3 linked regions of the Homo sapiens genome follow. The protein of the gene in region 2 interacts with the protein of the main gene of each other region in a pairwise test. Each region holds a gene or a part of one and is shown on either strand. Other genes may lie near its edges.

Region 1 (7,246 bases), on a different chromosome or scaffold from region 2:
TTGGCCTCCCAAAGTGCTAGGATTACAGGCGTGAGCCACTGTGCCCCACAGGCAAGTTTTTAAATTTCAGGTCATGATCCATTGGTGAGTGGTGAGATCAACTTAGTAAGTCATGACCTGAATACTTTTAATAAAACAGATGAGACTAAACTGGAAAGTATCAGAATGTATATAATAACAGTGAAATATTGTTCTGTGAAATTTTTGTCTGAAATGCATTGGATTGACTTTTTTTTTTTTTTTTTTTTTCCTGAGACGGAGTTTTGCTCTTGTTGCCCAAGGTGGAGTGCAATGGTGTGATCTCGGCTCACTCACTACAACCTCTGCCTCTTGGGTTCAAGCAGTTCTCCTATCTCAGCCTCCTAAGTAGCTGGGATAACAGGTGCCCGTCACTATGTCCGGCTGATTTTTGGTATTTTTAGTAAAGCTGGGGTTTTACCATGTTGGCCAGACTGGTCTCGAACTCCTGACCTCAGACGATCCGCCCGCCTTGGCCTCCCAAAGTGCTGGGATTACAGGCATGAGCCACCACACTCGGCCTGATTGACTTCTTTCTAAGTGGCTCAATTTTTTCTTTTTTCTTTTTTAAGAGAGCAATGGTTACTCAGGAGTATAGGAGAGAGGGTAGCGGTCACTTATTGCTATAGCCCAACCAAGCTTTGGCTGCCCTATGCTTAAATATACTTAAGATGTGTGTAAAGACATACGTGTGTGTATTGAGACATGATGTAAAATGTATTTCTTACCGTGAGCTGAGATAAAAATTTTTGAGGCTTCATAAGCAGGTAAAAAGTGATATCTGAGCAAGCAAGTTGTGGGGATGTATAGGGGAGCTTGGGGCTCTAAATTCTTGCACAGGAAGGGCCCGGGAGTTACTATAGATAGTAACAGTATAGACTCATTCAGCACACAGTGTAAGGCCACCAAGATGCTGAGTCCCAATAGGAAAGAAGAGAAAGATCCCATCTTTCTCTTGTACGAAATTATGTTCTCTCCCCACTTAGAAGAGACAAAACAGCAGGGACGGCTACAAAATGGCAGGATTACCCAGTGCAGCTGCTCAGTGCCACATTGCACAACTCCAGAGGGTGCTCTCACACAGACTGCAATGTGAATAGCTCCCCCTGGAGTTGAGCGGTGCACAACCCAAACAACCCTACCAGGCAACCGTAAGTATAGTGATTAAGAGCACAAGCTTTGGAGTCCAACAAACCTGGGGGCCTGTCTCAGACTGAATCCCAGACTATATAACCTGGGGCAGGTTATTTAGCCTCCTTGAGCCTCAATTTTCCAAACAGAATATGTTATACATCCCTAGGGCCTATTTCAGTGTCTGGCATTGAATAACAATAAACACGTGTCAAATGCATCGAGCTAATACTAGTACCTGCCTAAAAGGTGGTGGTGAGGAGCAAAGAAATTGACATACGAAAGGTTTTTAATATCTACAAAAGATGACAGACTGAAATAGTAACATTCTCCAGGATGGAAAGATCTATGCCACGTAGGAATTGTTTGTTCAAATTATTATTTTTTAAAAGCCATAAGCTATGGAGAGAATAACAGAGTTTTGTTTTGTTTTTTAATCCTGATACGGTGGAAGTCTGGTAGGATGGGAACCGTTCTTGAAGCTTGAGAATACATTCGGAACAAATAAAAAGTAGGAAATGCATACATTTTGTTATTTACAGTTGTAGGGCAGGTAAGGGCAAAACGTATTGATAAACTCAAAGAATTTTAAGAATGATATTGTCATGAGCCATGAGCCATGGAAGCTGCAAGGTTTGGGCTCCCTCCTGCCATCGGGTGGGGGGTGTCGGCGGAAGGGGGTACGTGTCCTGTCCTCTCCCAGTGCTTATTTCCTGCTGGAACCGTGGTTTTGACGCAGCCGTGACAGCCCTTCATCCTTATTAAAATCACACAATGAAGCAGGTCGCCCAAGATTGAAAGCGCGTTTCCAGGGCGGACCCCGGTCCCCGCCTTTGGCCAGCAAAAGTACATTCTGGCAGGGAGGGATCTCTGAGCCCCGAAGTGAGGTCATGCCAGTTAGCAGTTAGAAAAGGAGGCATTTCTCACACTTGCTAAAGAGTTTGACGCTTGTGAAATATAAACAGGAAGCGGGAGCTCTCCAAGGCGACCTGAAGGAAATACACTGCCAGTTTGGTCAACTTGTGAATGCCAGTTCTCTAGGTCGTCAAGGGCACTGCCAGTTAAGACTGATCCCCTAACTGCACCCGAGGCTACTACTCTTCGCCCAGTCTCGGCAGTGACCCCATTTTTTTTTCAATCCTTCCCACAGCCAGGTCACTCAGCAGTGGGGTGACTGACCCGAAGCGCAGTGGGAAGGGCTTACAGTCATCTCTCAACTCCCCGAACTTGCAGGGCAGGGGAGCGCAGAGGTCAGTGAAATCCCCAGCCAGGCCTTATTTTAGTCATGAGTTTCCACTGGCTCCCTCCTCTGACTGTATCAGCGCTGCTCACACCGCGGGATTGGAGTTTCAGCTGTTTTCCCTGCTCCCGGCTGAGTGAGAAGGTCACAGAGCCCGGACCTTTCCGGGGGAGGTGGGTGGGGCCCTCCGGCAGCCTAAGTGAGATTGCAGAGATCTGGGGCCGCTGGAGGAGGTCCTTCCGCCCCGGGCTTGGGGCTTTGGGTTAGCTTCTCCCCCGCTTCTCTACCTAGGCATCTCGGTTACAATGAAATTAAAAACAAAACACAAAGCAACACAAGTTCTCATTGTTTTTCCCCTCTGTCAGCCAGTGGCCTCGATACAATTTTCCCAGGGCTGCCTTTCCTTTATTGCTCAATTTAACCTCTTCCTAGAGGTTCTGCAAGTTCAAGGGCAGGATCCGTGTCGGATTCATCAACTAGTGCAGCGCCTAGTGCAGAGCAGGGGGCTCAAGAAATACGTGTCGACCGCATGATTGCTAAGATTTCCCTGTAACAGGCGGTTTTTTTTTCTTGTCTCTCTCATCCCTCCTGCCCTGGGTGCAGACCGCGAACAGCGCCGCCGAACTTCCCAACAGGCAGGGAGAGGGCCGATCCGGGCTGGCACGCCACGTCCCCGGGGTCTCAGTCCCTGGGTCAACGCAGAGAGGCTCGCGGTCCGCGGTGCTACGACCTGAGCCCGGCCACGTGAAGCGTCACGCCCTGCGCTGCTGCAGGGCAGGCGCCGCCGCCGCGGTTGTGTAACGCTGCAGCCGGAGGGGAGGCGACCGGGGCGCCTCTGCTCCGGAGGGGGCAGAGGAGGGAGGGAGCGCCGGGCACAGCGCCCGGTATCTTTCTGCGCTTGACTGGCCGGGAGGAAGGGGGTGACACTGGGGCACCCAGGGGGCTGCGCAACCGGGTGCCCGCCCGCCCGCAGGTTGTGCCCAGGAGCGGAGCTCCTGGGAGCGAGGGGCCCTCGGCTCACACCCTCCACGGTCAGGTGCGCGCGGCGTGCTCGGCGGCAGCCTCAGCTGCCCCTGCGCTTGGCCGTCGGCCCGCTTCCCATGGGGTGACATCCGCCCCGCCCCTCGGTCCCTCCCCAAGGCGGGCAATTCCTGGACGCGAGGGTGAGCAGTGGGGGCAGGGAAGCCAGGACGGAAAGAAACCCCAGCCTCTGGGGAAGGCTGGGGGGCCGGGCGACTCCCTCCGCAGCGCGCCGGTTCCTCCAAGCGGGCCGGGCGGGGGAGGAGGAAGAGGGCTGGGCTGGAGCTAGCAAGGGGATATTCCTCTCCCGGCTTGAGTCAGACGCGGGCGGATCCGTCCTCCCCCGTTCCCTCCCAGGAGACGGGAACTTACTTCATTTCCCTGGGGCAGGTTCGCCCACGTTACCAACTTCTCCCCCTCCCCCAGCACCCCCGTCCCTTCCAGCTTCCGCGCCCCCCACCCAACTGGGCAGGACCCAGGTCGTGCTGCCACCCCCTCTTCGGGGAAAGGCGGCCGCAGCCGCAGACACCTGGGGGCCGGGGCTGGGGGTGGGGGCTCCCTAGCAGCCGCCGGAGCGTTGTCCAACACGTGAGACTCATGTGATGAAGCCGGGGGAGGGCGGGCAGGTCGCTCCTTCCCTCCCCGGCAGTGGCCAGACGTGCCTGGAGTCACAGGGTAGAACACGTAGCTCCAACCCACCCACTCGCTCCCATTTAACCCAGCCCGCAGCCTCTCCATTACTCCTCGGCTTGCCCCCCCACCCCCCCACTCCGCCCTAACCGCCCCCCCCTCACCCGCTCCCTCCCGCCTCCCCGCCCGCCCCACTTCTCATTCACTTGGCTCGCACGGCGCAGACAGACCGCGCAGGGAGCACACACCGCCAGTCTGTGCGCTGAGTCGGAGCCAGAGGCCGCGGGGACACCGGGCCATGCACGCCCCCAACTGAAGCTGCATCTCAAAGCCGAAGATTCCAGCAGCCCAGGGGATTTCAAAGAGCTCAGACTCAGAGGAACATCTGCGGAGAGACCCCCGAAGCCCTCTCCAGGGCAGTCCTCATCCAGACGCTCCGCTAGTGCAGACAGGAGCGCGCAGTGGCCCCGGCTCGCCGCGCCATGGAGCGGATCCCCAGCGCGCAACCACCCCCCGCCTGCCTGCCCAAAGCACCGGGACTGGAGCACGGAGACCTACCAGGGTAAGTTGGCACTCCTTGGCCCTTCAAGCCTCAACTGCAGCCCCATGTTATGCGCCACTCTCAACTTGGAGCAGCTCCGGGCGCACCGGGAGGTTCTTGCCCGGCAGAACGCCTGCAGCCGTGCGCAAGCAGTCACGACCCTTCCTGGTCTCTCTTCCTGCAGGATGTACCCTGCCCACATGTACCAAGTGTACAAGTCAAGACGGGGAATAAAGCGGAGCGAGGACAGCAAGGTAAGCAAGTGCACCCCTAGGGACCCTGCGCTCAGCCCCTCGCGCGCGCTGAGTTTCCAAGAAAAGTTTTCTCGCTTTGAGGTTGGCGAGGGGATGCAGGGTGTGGGCTCGGTGCCTCTTCTGAGTGACTTGGAAAAGAAAGGGCAGACGATGGTTCTGGGTGCTACTCTGCTACTCTGCTCCTCTGCCGGACTGTTGCTGCGGGGCTGGGAGGATAGGCTTCTCATCTCCTTCCCCAAGCGCCCACCGCCTCCCCGTGCGTCTTGCAGGAGACCTACAAATTGCCGCACCGGCTCATCGAGAAAAAGAGACGTGACCGGATTAACGAGTGCATCGCCCAGCTGAAGGATCTCCTACCCGAACATCTCAAACTTACAGTAAGTGAGAAGCTGGCCCCTTTCCAACCCAGTCCTTTGCCCAGAGGGCGGGCGGGTCACTCGCCGCCTGCAGGTTCCGCGGGGAACTGCAGACCAGACTGGCGGATCAGAGCTGGCGGGTGGCTCTGCGGTGGGGTCCTCCTCCACAGTCCTGGCGTTTTCTGGCTGACTCATGCAAATGAGGCGAGAACCACTTGGACCTCTCCAAGTTGGCTCCAACACCAACTGGCCTTCCTTTTCAGGAGTTTAACTTCTGGTGATTTTCAGGATTCCCTAGTTTTTCTCACTTAAAGGAACACGCCAAGAAACACACACATTTTATTTACCCCTTCCCCTCTACCACTCCCCCCACCTTTTTTGTTGTTGTTGTCAAATAAGGGGACTTGCTTTGGTGTGTGATTTTTACGGCCTGTCCTTTCTTGACAGTAGCCCTCGGCTACTTCGCAGCCTTTGGTTGGGGAAATGGAAAAAAAAAAAATAGTATTTCGGGAGGAACAAAAAAGCCTGGATGAGCTGGAAGTTCTGAAAGGGTGTAAGGAAAGAAGTAGGGAAAGCCTCTTGGCTGCCAGACGTAATAGAGGTCCCTCTCTGAGTTGACACCACTGCAGGAAAATGTTATCTCTGGATTCCCCTGAGTTAAGGTCGGCAGAGGCTGCTGGAGAAATTTATCTGTCAAAGGATTTTCCTGAGGTAGTTGCAGCTTCCAAAATGCCTCCAAAGACAGGTGGCACCCGTTTTTTTAAATTATTTAATTATATATATATATTATATATATATACACACACACACACACACACACACACACACACATATATGAGTGTATCTGTCTATCTTTTTAAAAGCATGACCTACAGACTTAAAACAGCCAACCAGGAAACACTATTCCACTTTTTTTTTTCTTTTCTCATTTCTCATTGCTAATAAATGTCCCAAAGGTGGGACTTCTCTGACCTCACCGCTGACTAAGGCTCTTTTCCTTCCAGACTTTGGGTCACTTGGAAAAAGCAGTGGTTCTTGAACTTACCTTGAAGCATGTGAAAGCACTAACAAACCTAATTGATCAGCAGCAGCAGAAAATCATTGCCCTGCAGAGTGGTTTACAAGCTGGTGAGTGCTGATTCTGGCTATGCTCTCTTTAAGAGTTTGAGTGCAAATAGAGAGCCCGTGGGCTCAACATCTGATGTAATAAACATTACTGCAACAAATTGCTTATGCACGTTCATTGGGGGAGATGCAGTTTTATCTTTCCTAAAAGGTCAGACTTTTCATTTGAAATGCATTGTGCCACCTGGCATGAATACGTATTAGTGAAATGATAAGATATTCCTGTGGCATTTTAGCTTGAGAGTCTCTGGGTTCTGGGAGATTTCCCTACTCCCTTTTAAAATGCCAAGGCACCTATAATTTGCATTGTGGGTGTTTTACAGTTGGTCTTCTTAGCCCTCTTTCATTGGAGAAGAAATCATGGGTATGCCCCAGCGTTTTCCTGTTTCTTTGCTTCCTTGTCACTTGGTGTGTGGTGTGATCCTGGCAGGATACAGCAGGAGTTTTTCCTGCATTTCATGTGGTTCCCTGAATAGCCACTAGGTATCTTGGTGAATTGCACAATCTAGCGAAACCACTGAAGTTTCATCATTCGTTTCTACTGACTTCCAGATAATCGGAGTCAACCTTCTAACCTTCTAGTCTCACTTCTTCCAAATAATACTGTACAGACTGGGGAGAATTATTCTACCCACTCCCTCATTTCATGCTTGTCTGCCTTCCTCTCGAAGGCTCGTATGATGAAAATTGCAAAAACCCAGCTAGTGCTTCTGCCTGTTTCCTCATTCAAAATAGGAAGATGGTCATACCTAATGTCTTGAGGATCATGGATAGAATATGTGGAGAAGACATAGAAATAGCCTAATTAAAGGTCACAGCATGACTGCAACTTTTACAAATCATTGAAAATAAGTTTACTTTAGGTGATTGTTGTTTCTTCATTCTTTTCCTCATTTTATAACTATCCAGCCTCTGCCCATTTTGCCACGGT
Region 2 (7,029 bases):
TTGACTTAGTTTTTTGGGAGGTTTTTACTCTGCTTGTTGTTGTTGTTTAGAGACAGGGTCTCGCTCTGTTGCCCAGGCTGGAGTGTGGTAGTGCGATCATAGCTCACAGCAGCCTCCAGCTCCTTGGCTCAAGCAGTCCTCCCCACTCTGCCTCCCAAGCAGCTAGGACTACAGGTTGCATGCCACCATGCCCAGCTTTTTTTTTTTTTTTTTCCTTGTAAGGGATGGGTCTCACTGTGGTACCCAGGGTGGCCTCGAACTCCTGGGCTCATGCGATCCTACCCCCTTGACCTCTGAAAGTGCTCAGGTTACAGGTGTGAGCCAGCACACCTGGTTATTTTGACGTGTGTTTGTGTGTGGCGGGGGGGGTTTTACCTTGTTTACTATGGTTTTTATACCATGAAAACGTTTTTATTATTTATTAATTAATTAAAGCTGTCATTTTCTTTTCTTTTGCTCTACTGATTCTACTGTAGGCAGAAATAGTATAGTCATGTAAAATATATGTTAAAATGTAAATTAAATGTATTTTTTAAAATATACACTTAATTCTTTGTTGCTATAATGTGTTCCTCTTCTAGGCAAGGATAAAAGCCATCAATACATTTTTTGCTAAGAATGGTTATCGATTAATGGATTCTAGTATCTATAGTCACCCCATTCAAACTCAAGCACAGTATGCCTCCCCAGTCTTTATGCAGCCTGTATATAATCCTCACCAACAGTACTCGGTCTATAGTATTGTGCCTCAGTCTTGGTCTCCAAATCCTACACCTTACTTTGAAACACCACTGGTAAGTGAGATCCTTACAATAAAATATAATAATATTTTTAATTTGAGCTGAAATTTGAAGAAATCAGTTGGAGTGGGAGCTCATTTATGTTGACATTGATGACTTTTTGGCCTTTATTTTATTTTATTTTTTGTATTTTTCGTAGAGATGGAATTTTGCCATGTTGCCCAGGCTGGTCTCGAACTCCTGTGCTCAGGCAGTCCACCCGCCTCAGCCTCCCAAAATGCTAGGATTACAAGCCACTATGCCCGGCCACTTTTTGGCTTTTAAACAGTGATATGGATATCTAATTCTCCATACCAAATAAATGCATATGACTAAGAGGTGAGCTATTAGAGCGCATAATTTTATTCCATAAAATTTGCTGAGTGAATTGAAAGAAGAGACTGGATAACTTTTGCGTGATTTTAAATGCATTTTAGTGTTGCGAAATGTCAGACCAGACATTCTTTACTAAGTTATGAATTGTTCATAAATCCAGTGGTACTTGAAGTGAATATTGCAGAAATGAATCAGTAAAATATTTTAAGATATTTTTGGCTTGTAAAAGATAAATTCATAAGCTCATTAAGGTTCTTGTGACCCTCACACCAGATTTTACCTTTGCCATTAATATTGTTTAAACATACATTTTTTTCTAGGCTCCCTTTCCCAATGGTAGTTTTGTGAATGGCTTTAATTCGCCAGGATCTTATAAAACAAATGCTGCTGCTATGAATATGGGTCGACCATTCCAAAAAAATCGGTAAGATAAAAACCATAGCTGTAATGTATTTTAAACAATTCCTAATGGATCTTAAGGCATTAATAGCAATGTTTGTTGTCAGGCTCAGTAATAAGGTTTGGTGGATTTTTTGTTTGTTTTGTTTTTACTAAGTGTATATGAACAGTTTAATCTAGAATTCGTAAAAACACTTTGACCTTTGAGTTGGTAATGCATGTAACAGACTTGGGATTCAGATTTTTTTTAATAATAAAAGAGAATAGAAAAAATATTTCATGACACCAGTCTCTGACAAATCTGGTGACTAATTTCCATTTAGTATGTTAAATGGGTAGCATTTTAGAGAATGAATTCTTTGAAGATATAAATGTTGTTAACTGAATTGTGTAATAAATGTTGGGATGTATGTTATTCAGGTTTTTAAAGGATTTTTGAAATGACACCCAAGAACTACAGTGCACAACAGACAGTAGCTAACATTTATTGCACATTTAATATCACAAACTCTGTTCCTAAGGGCTTTACATATTTTATCAGTTACTTTTTTCAGAACCCTTTATAGGTGCACTTATGTCTACTTTACAGATAAGGAATCTGAGATGTAAAATATCATGTCTGAGAACACACAGCTAGTAATTGGTAGAGCTAAGATTTGAACCTAGGCAGTTCAACTCCAAAGCCCGCACTTAAAGCACTATGTTCAGGATAAATTATTAAGAATCATAGAAACTATATGCTATCATAAAGATTGAGATGTATGTCTGAGGTATTTTTCTTTATGTAGACATCAACAGATAATCTCAATATTTGGTGTATGTTATGGCTTGTTGTTGTTGTTGTTGTGGGGGTAGAGACAGGGTCTGTTTATGTTGCCTGGGACGACTGGTCTTGAACTCCTGGGCTCAAAGCAGTCCTCCCACCTTGGCCTCCCAAATTGCTAGGATTACAGGCGTGATACTATGGCTTTTAACACAGTATGAGTAACCAAAGAATAAAGGACTGACATATAGTCATTTCGATTTATTTAATAGTTTCACATTTATTACTTCTCGTTTGCTGTTTTGTGAGACTCTTGGTTTTTGAGGGTTTTTCCTAATGGTTTATTTTCAGTGACAGTCTTTTGCCAGATTCGATTCTTCTAATTATTTCTTTTGGAAAGGAGACCATCTGGAGTATGTTTTTCCAAGATGACTTCTAGGAACTTAGTCCTTTTTTGACAGGTTTTTCTGAAACTTGTTTTACTGGAGAAATGAGCCCCAACAGAATGAAAAAATATTCTTCTCACTGGAAACATTGTGTACTACTCTTTAATAGTCAGAGTTTTTGGACTATTCTTGACAGACACAATTGGTTAAAGCAATTGAAGATCATTTTCAAGTGTTAGAAAAATTTTACTACTAAACATAAACACAGGCTGAGGTGGGTGGATCATCTGAGCTCAGGAGTTCAAGAGCAGCCTGGGCAATATGACGAAACATCATCTCTACCAAAAATACAAAAATTAGCTGGGCGTGGTGGTGTAGTGCATGCCTGAAGTCCCAACTACTCAGGAGGCTGAGGAACGAGAATTGCTTGAGCCTGAGAAGCACAGGTTGCAGTGAGCCGAGATCATACCACTGCACTCCAGCCTGGGTGACGGTGAGACTCTGTTATTCCCTGCAGCCACGCCCTCTCACCCCTCCCCGCTCCCCCCTCCAAAAAATAAAGGTACTGATATTTGCAGTTGCTTGACTCTGAAATACTTTACTTGGCTCCATGGTTATTTCTTTATTGTTACCTTTTATCCGTTGCATCTTTTTGGTGACAGCCAGGAATGACAGTCAAGTTATCTTTACTTATAAGGAAGTATACCTATGGTTTTGAAAATACATGGTGTGTTTAGTACATTTTTGCATGTTACTTAAAACCACTTGTGTACAGTTCTTTTCCATATATTTGACCAATACAGGTTGGTAATTTTTAATTACAGAAATAATTAGTGAATACTTTTTCTAAAAATGCAAATAAAGACCTTCTGGACCAGCAACCCAAATCCTTGTTTCCTTCTTGCTTCTAAAAAGTGACTACTTCTAAAAAGTGACTACTGCCAGGCATTTATTATTATTATTAATGTTAACAGCTAAGGACAAAGTCTTTTTTAGAGAGCCTTTTGCAATTTTTATATTAACCTGTGACAGCCCAGTGATGATCACTATTCCTACTTAGAGAGAATAGGACTAACTTTCAGAAATCCAGGCATTTTTCTACCTTTCATACTATCTTTCTTTCACTTTACTTCTCTTTTCTGTCTTTTATCACTTCTTTCTTTCTTCATTCTTTCTCTCTTTTGCCTGGATCGAGATTGTTAAGTCCCTCTCAGTGAAGGGTAAGATTATGAGATCTGAGGGCTGTATAAATGTAGTAAGTTGTCCCTTAAGCATATTGAAATGTAGTGTGAAAGTTGGATGAAGGACATTTTCTAAACATATGCAAATACCATATCTATCATATCAGTTCATTTTCAAGATGTAACAGGTAATATAAATTTTTTTTTTTGAGACGGAGTCGTGCTCTGTCACCGGGCTGTAGTGTAGTGGTGCAGTCTCTGCTTACTGCAACCTCTGCTTCCCGAGTTCAAGCAATTCTCTGGCCTCAGCCTTCTGAGTAGCTGGGACTACAGGCATGTGCTAGCTAATTGTTGTATTTTTAGTAGAGACGGGGTTTCATCATGTTGGCCAGGATGGTCTCAATCTCTTGACCTCGTGATCCACCCAGCTTGGCCTCCCAAAGTCCTGGGATTACAGGCATGAGCCACCATACCCGGCCTTTTTTTTTTTTTTTTTTTTTAAAGACGGAGTTTTGCTCTTGTTGTCCAGGCTGGAGTGCAATGGCGGGATCTCGGCTCACTGCAACGTCCGTCTCCCGGGTTCAAGCGATACTCCTGCCTTAGCCTTCCAATTAGCTGAGATTACAGACGCATGCCACCACGCCCAGCTAATTTTTTGTATTTTAGTAGAAACTGGGTTTCACCATGTTGGCCAGGCTGGTCTCGAACTCCTGACCTCAGGTGATCTACCCGCCTTGGCCTCCCAGAGTGCTGGCATTATAGGTGTGAGCCACCGCATCTGGCCTAACTATTTTTAAAATTACTTTTTATAGCCAGTGGGGTGGCTCATGCCTATATTCCCCACACATTGAGAAGCCAAGGCAGGCAGATCACTTGATCTCATGAGTTGGAGACCAACCTAGGCAACAGAGTGAAACCTCGTCTCTACTGACAATATAAAAATTAGCCAGGCATACTGGTGTGCACCTGTAGTCCCTGCTACTTGGGAGACTGAGGTGGGAGGATAGCTTGAGCCCAGGAGGCAGAGGTTGTAATGAGCTGAGATCGCACCACCTCGCTCCAGCCTGGGTGACACAGCCAGACCTTTCTCAAAAAAAAAAAAAATTACTTTTTGTTAAGTGACATACTATTTTCATTGCTATTTAAGAAATCTAGTTTGTAATATAAAGTAATTCTATGGCAAAGTGTCACTTTATGTGAAACTCAACCCAACTTTTTTTTTTTTTTTTAAGACAGTGTTTTGCCCTGTCACCCAGGCTGTAGTGCAGTAACATGATCATGGCTCACTGTAGTTTTGACCTCCCAGGCCCAATCAATTCTCCACCTCAGCCTTCCTAGTAGCTGGGACTACAGGCGCATACCACCATGCCTAGCTAAGTTTTTGTATTTTTTTTTTTGTAAAGACAGGGTTTTGCCATGTTGTGCAGGCTGGTCTCAAACTCCTGGGCTCCAATGATCCTCCCACCTCAGCCTCTTAAAGTGCTGGGGTTACAGATATGAGCCACTGAGCCCACTGCGCCCAGCCTGATAATTTTATCTTTGTTTTTGTTTGTTTGTTTTTGTTTTTTGTTTGTTTTTGTATTTTTAGTTAGAGACAGAGGGTTTCACCATGTTGGCCAGGGTGGTCTTGATCTCTTGACCTCGTGATGCACCCGCCTTGGCCTCCCAAAGTGCTGGGATTACAGGTGTGAGCCACCACACCCAGCTACTTTAAGTTTTAATAATGGTAATTTTTTATGGTCTGTAAAGAATAAAACAGGACAACTAGAGATGCTGTGGGAATTTACGTTTAATTGGTGGGGTTATAATTATTCAAGAGGTTTTAAATCCTTATTCCTAGAGTCAGGAATTGGCAACATGTGATTTATATTGTTGGTTTATAACTATGAAAATAGATTACAAAAACTGAGATATATAAACTGCAAATAATGGGCCAAACATAAATCTCACTCTTCTTAATCTGTAGATCCAAGATCCTCAGTTGCTTGAGATTTTAGGTGTTTTTGCTACTGATTAAACTACATTCTTTTTATATTAGTCAACCTTAGCTTCATCTGTTGTAAGCTTTTAGGAAGTTGGGTGCTTATACCCATCATCCAAGATAAAAACTCCCTTTGTTAAAAGCAGATTGGTTGGTTTAACCACATTGCATACCTTAATTCATGCAGTCATGCCATGCTATTGGGTGCATTGGTATTTTCCTAGTTTGCTGTCCTACATATGGATCTTTTGATAAATCTCATTTGGTGATGGATGTTTAGTAAGATGCTAGGTTTTGTTTGTTTTGTTTTTTGAGACGGAGTTTTGTTTTTGTTGCCCAGGCTGGAGTGCAATGGTGTGATCTTGGCTCCCTGCAAACTCCACCTCCTGGGTTCAAGAGATTCTCCTGCCTCAGCCTCCTGAATAGCTGGGATTACAGGTGTTTGCCACCATGCCAGGCTAATTTTTGTATTTTTAGTAGAGATGGGGATTCACCATGTTAGCCAGGCTGGTCTAGAACTCCTGACCTCAGGTGATCTGCCCGTCTCCACTTCCCAAAGTTCTGGGATTACAGGCGTGAGCCACCATGCCCGGCTGAGGCTAGGATTTTAATTATATTCCAATATTTCTTACTCTCTTCATTATTACTCCCCTAAACAGCCTTTTTAGGCATTTTCCTCCTAGTTTCTGCCTGTGAAAATTTACTACTACAGATTATTGTATGTCTGTATGTATGTAATGTATGTATCTGTGCTTTATACATAAAATGATTACTTTTTGCCCTTCCTTCGCCCCCGTTTTTACTCCCATTAGCGTGGTTTTGCTTCCATTAAGAATGCATAGCTGGGCCTGGTGGCTCACACCTGTAATCCCAGCACTCTGGGAGGCCGAGGTGAGCAGATCACCAGGTCAGGAGATCGAGACCATCGTGGCCAACATGGTGAAACCCCATCTCTACTAAAAATACAAAAATTATCTAGGTGTGGTGGCACGTGCCTATAGTCCCAGCTACTCGGGAGGCTGAGGCAGGAGAATCTCTTGAACCCGGGAGGCGGAGGTTGCAGTGACCTGAGATCGCGCCATTGCACTCCAGCCTGGCGACAGAGCAAGACTCCGTATCAAAAAAAAAAAAAAAAAAAAAAAAGGGTGTTATAGGCCAGGTGTGATGGCTCATGCCTGTAATCCCGACACTTTGGGAGGCCAAG
Region 3 (4,917 bases), on a different chromosome or scaffold from region 2:
TGTGCGTATGGTGTATATATGTATAACTGTACGTGTGCATGTTTGTATTAGATGGGTGGATGAATATGTGTATGATGTATGTATGATCATATCGATGGGTAAATGCAGGCATGATGTATGTGCGTATGGTGTATGCATGTATAATTGTACGTGTGCATGTTTGCATTAGACGGATGGGATGAATGCACATGGGTATGATGTATGCATGTGTTCATGCACACATGCAGGTATGATTGGATGGATAGATGGATGGATGGGTGAATAGACGCCCCACAGCTGGATGCAAAGTAGACAGATGTGAACCCAGCACCTCTCACCAATAAGTGTCCTCATCCCCGGGCACCCTGCGGCTCTCCTGGGCCTCTTCCCCACTTACCCACCCCCATCTCCGCTCTTATCCCCCAGGTTTGGTTCAAGAACCGGAGGGCTAAATGCAGGCAGCAGCGACAGCAGCAGAAACAGCAGCAGCAGCCCCCAGGGGGCCAGGCCAAGGCCCGGCCTGCCAAGAGGAAGGCGGGCACGTCCCCAAGACCCTCCACAGATGTGTGTCCAGACCCTCTGGGCATCTCAGATTCCTACAGTCCCCCTCTGCCCGGCCCCTCAGGCTCCCCAACCACGGCAGTGGCCACTGTGTCCATCTGGAGCCCAGCCTCAGAGTCCCCTTTGCCTGAGGCGCAGCGGGCTGGGCTGGTGGCCTCAGGGCCGTCTCTGACCTCCGCCCCCTATGCCATGACCTACGCCCCGGCCTCCGCTTTCTGCTCTTCCCCCTCCGCCTATGGGTCTCCGAGCTCCTATTTCAGCGGCCTAGACCCCTACCTTTCTCCCATGGTGCCCCAGCTAGGGGGCCCGGCTCTTAGCCCCCTCTCTGGCCCCTCCGTGGGACCTTCCCTGGCCCAGTCCCCCACCTCCCTATCAGGCCAGAGCTATGGCGCCTACAGCCCCGTGGATAGCTTGGAATTCAAGGACCCCACGGGCACCTGGAAATTCACCTACAATCCCATGGACCCTCTGGACTACAAGGATCAGAGTGCCTGGAAGTTTCAGATCTTGTAGAGGACGCAGTCTCCATCTCTCTCCATCGGGCCTCGGGACCCTTTCTCTTCTGAATCTGCTTCCCTGCAGTTTAGATCCCGGGATGGCATTCCTGAGAAAGCAACCCGAACCAGCTGTCCTTCTGACAGCTCGGTGTTCAGCTTACAGAGACCACCCCTTTCCTCCACAGGGAGAGGCTCCTCCCTCTCCTGGGACAGCTCACAGGTCCTAGTGATTCTCTCAACCCTAACACCGTCTGGCACGATTGTGACCGCTGAAGTACACCACGAGCTCCAGGCTTCAGAAAGTGGTGCTGAGAACTTGCTCCAAGAAGAAGTCAAACCAAACTTGCAGTTGATTTGGGGTCATGTTTAGGTCAGAATCACCGTGCCCTTGAACAAGCAGGTAGGGGGGCTTGATAACTTAACTTTCCACGTGGACAGAATTTTTTTTTTTGTTTTGTTTTTGTTTTGCAGACACAGTCTAGCTCTGTCGCCCAGGCTGGAGTGCAGTGGCACGATCTCAGCTCACTGCAAGCTCTACCTCCCGGGTTCACGCCATTCTCCTGCCTCAGCCTCCCGAGTAGCTGGGACTACAGATGCCCACCACCAGGCCCGGCTAATTTTTTTTGTATTTTTAGTAGAGACGGGGTTTCACCGTGTTAGCCAGGATGGTCTCGATCTCCTGACCTCGTGATCCGCCCGCCTCGGCCTCCCAAAGTGCTAGGATTACAGGCGTGAGCCACCGCGCCCGGCCCTTTTTTTTTTTTTTTTTTTTAATTGAGACGGAGTCTCACTCTTTTGCTTAGGCTGGAGTGCAGTGGTGTGATCTCAGCTCACTGACTGCAACCTCCACCTCCCGGGTTGAAGCGTTGCTCCTGCCTCAATCTCCCAATTAGCTGGGATTACAGGTGTGCTCCATCATGCCCGGCTAATTTTTCTATTATTAGTAGAGACAGGGTTTTACCATGTTGGCCAGGCTGGTCTGGAACCCCTGACCTCAAGTGATCCGCCTGCCTCGGCCTCCCAAAGTGCTGGGATTACAGGCATGAGCCATTGTGCCTGGCCCTACACGTGGACACTTCTTTAGCATATGGTTAGGGACCTTTCTAGAAATTCCAAAGACAGACTTTAAGAAGCCCCGTCGGGAAACCTTAGGCCAATGATGTGGTTACATTAAAAATAAATTATCTGGGAATTTCACAGACTTCACAAATGTCAGGCTTACATGGTAGGTTTAGGGGACCGTTTGAGAGACAAAGATCTACATTCATATATGTAGCTATACATATATGTACTTTTTCTTCTTAGTTTCTTTTTAAAGACATTTTATCACTCATTCGCTCATTAGCACATTGGGAATGTGTGTATTTGGTAGGGAAATGAAAGGCACCTTGCCTGTTCCATCTCTACTCCTTTTTTCTTTTGTTTTAGGATTTTCTAAAGGTGAGACACTGGTGGAACTGGGGTAGCTGCTTGGGACGTACCACCTATAGTTGTGGCTATTTCACAGAGAAGCAGCAGCTAGACAGACTCCCATCTGTAAATAAACAAGAGATAGGAAGAGGGGGAAATAGATTTGGAGGAGGCAGCCCTACATTTCAAACATACATTCCCTTTTTTAGATTTTTTTTTTTTTTTTTTTGGTTTTCAGTTTTGATGGTGGGATTGGAAAATAGAGCTTGGCTTGAGGACATTTTCCTGGGGTGGCACCATTATTTCTTGAAATAGAATCTTACTTATGGTGACACTGGCAAGCACTTGTGAGAACCTGAAGACGGATTGAGGTCATTTGATGCTCAGAAGTTGGGTGCTGGGTCCCTGCCTTCTCAGTCCGAGTTCTCCTTTCATTTTTGGGTGGGGAGGCGGGTTCCAAGAGCCCTTCATTGGTGGAGTTCACAAGGCAAGGTGTAAAAAAAAAAGTAGGGCAGGAAGACAGTGGTGTGCTGGCAGAGGTCTAACAATGGGCTCTCCAAGGAAGAGGAAAAGGTTGGTTGTGGAGTGTTTGTCAGTTTCCGTGGTGTAAATACTCCCACCACGGCTGACTTCAAGCTAGCAACCGGAGGTCACTGAACTAAGAGTTGGGAAGAGATAGGGCACAATATATGCTTACGAGTTGGTACACACCGTCAGCAGCAGCCAGGGTCAGGAGAAAGGCGAGATGTGAAGAGAGGCCGGGAGGTATCAGATGACGTTTCCAGCACTAGACCAGAAGAGGTGCACACAGCCTAGACCCCCTGAGGGGTACACCCTGATCTCTAGAGCCCACAAAGAGGTTTTTATTCAACATAAAACGTGTTCATCTCTCATAGGCCTGAGTCATGCTGGGTTCTGGGACATTAAGCCCAGGAGTGGGCCGGGTGCGGTGGCTCACGCCTGTAATCCCAGCACTTTGGGAGGCCGAGGCGGGTGGATCACCTGAGGTCAGGAGTTCGAGACCAGCCTGGCCAACATGGTGAAACCCTGTCTCTACTAATAATACAAAAATTAGCCGGGCATGGTGGCACGCGCCTGTAATCCCAGCTACTCGGGAGGCTGAGGCAGGAGAATTGCTGGAACCCGGGAGGCGGAGGTTGAAGAGAGCAGAGATTGTGCCACTGTGCTCTAGCCTGGGTCACAAGAGCGAAACTCCGTCTCAATAATAACAACAACAAAAATAACCCAGGAGTGGCTCAAGAGTCCAGTGTGGGATGAAAATATAAACAGAGGAAGACAACATATGTCACTGGGGAGGCTGGGGGAGCTAGACAAAATTCACACGGGAGGGGCAGGGATGAGACAATATTGTGCCCTGGGTCTGTGCAAACGTTGGGACCAGAATCCACTATAAGTTTCATTCTTCGGAGACACGGAAGCTCTGCACTGGAGGCCGGGACTCAGGCGTGGAAGAGAATCTTCTCCTTATTCACCGGGGAGGCTGTGTCTTGTGCAAACAAGTCATAGAAACTTGATGGGAGTTGGGGAGGGACTGAAGGATGCATGCAAGGTTCTGGGAAGGAGTGAGAAGTAGTGAAGGCCAAGGGGCCCCCATCACAGGCCGATGGGGTAAGACTTCGAGAGAGCCTGATCCTGGGGTCTTCTGAGACTCCACCAGGAGCCGGAGAGGGCAGGGAGCCAAATCCAGCTAGGAGGTTACAGATTGCTTTTCCTGGGCTGGGCTCCTGAGTGTTGGTTCTTCCAGCTGTGCACAGGGGATTTCAAACGTTCTACGTCCTAAAGCCAGGAAGAGTGACAAGGCAGGTGGGGACAGAAGGAAGAAGCCAGGAGCCTCCCTGAGAAGGTGTCACCTTATCTGTCCTCCTCTTCCCCACACACTGGCCTCTGGGTCCCCCTTCTCTGTCCACCCACAGAGTGAAACCAATTAAAATGTTGGATCTCATTTAAAGTCTGGGTGATTCTTTAGTTTCCGTGTTTTCTCCAGGAGGGGCAGGTAGAAACAGGAACTACTCTGTTCCTTCTGTCTGTGGGGCCTGGGTCCCTCCATGTGTTTCCTGTCTCATCACCCTCCTTTCCTTGACATCTCTCTAAAGCCAATTTATGAAGGATCAGGGGCTGGGTGCAGTGGCTCACGCATGTAATCCAGTGCTCTGAGAAGCTGAGGAGGGAAGATTGATTAAGGCCAGGAGTTTGAGACCAGCCCAGGCAACATAGCGAGATCTCTGTCTCTACAAAAAATTAAAAAAATCAACCGGGTGTGGTGATGTGTGCCTGTGGTCCCAGCTACTCGGGAGGCTGAGATGAGAGGATCGGTTGAGCCCAGGAGTTTGAGGCTGCAGGGAGCTATGATTGCACCACTGCACTCCAGCCTGGGTGATGCAACAAGAGACCCTGTCTCCAAAAACAAAAAATAAAAAAAAAAAAAAAAGAAGGAGGAGGAGGAACAGGG

The links.
Region 1: the proteins of LARP4 (region 2) and BHLHE40 interact in binary tests that used the Homo sapiens proteins (3 or more experiments, as listed by UniProt).
Region 3: the proteins of LARP4 (region 2) and CRX interact in binary tests that used the Homo sapiens proteins (3 or more experiments, as listed by UniProt).

What each region holds. Positions count from the first base shown.
Region 1 is NC_000003.12:4,975,198-4,982,443, forward strand, and holds the start of BHLHE40 (class E basic helix-loop-helix protein 40), read left to right. Parts: upstream 1-4,239; 5' UTR 4,240-4,521; coding exon 4,522-4,601; exon of another isoform or gene 4,602-4,764; coding exon 4,765-4,834; intron 4,835-5,103; coding exon 5,104-5,211; intron 5,212-6,194; coding exon 6,195-6,318; intron 6,319-7,246. UniProt on the Homo sapiens protein: Transcriptional repressor involved in the regulation of the circadian rhythm by negatively regulating the activity of the clock genes and clock-controlled genes.
Region 2 is NC_000012.12:50,452,879-50,459,907, forward strand, and holds part of LARP4 (la-related protein 4), read left to right. Parts: intron 1-581; coding exon 582-794; intron 795-1,435; coding exon 1,436-1,539; coding exon of another isoform or gene 1,540-1,543; exon of another isoform or gene 1,544-3,550; intron 3,551-3,692; exon of another isoform or gene 3,693-3,908; intron 3,909-7,029. UniProt on the Homo sapiens protein: RNA binding protein that binds to the poly-A tract of mRNA molecules. Associates with the 40S ribosomal subunit and with polysomes. Plays a role in the regulation of mRNA translation.
Region 3 is NC_000019.10:47,838,915-47,843,831, forward strand, and holds the end of CRX (cone-rod homeobox protein), read left to right. Parts: intron 1-405; coding exon 406-1,053; 3' UTR 1,054-4,410; downstream 4,411-4,917. UniProt on the Homo sapiens protein: Transcription factor that binds and transactivates the sequence 5'-TAATC[CA]-3' which is found upstream of several photoreceptor-specific genes, including the opsin genes.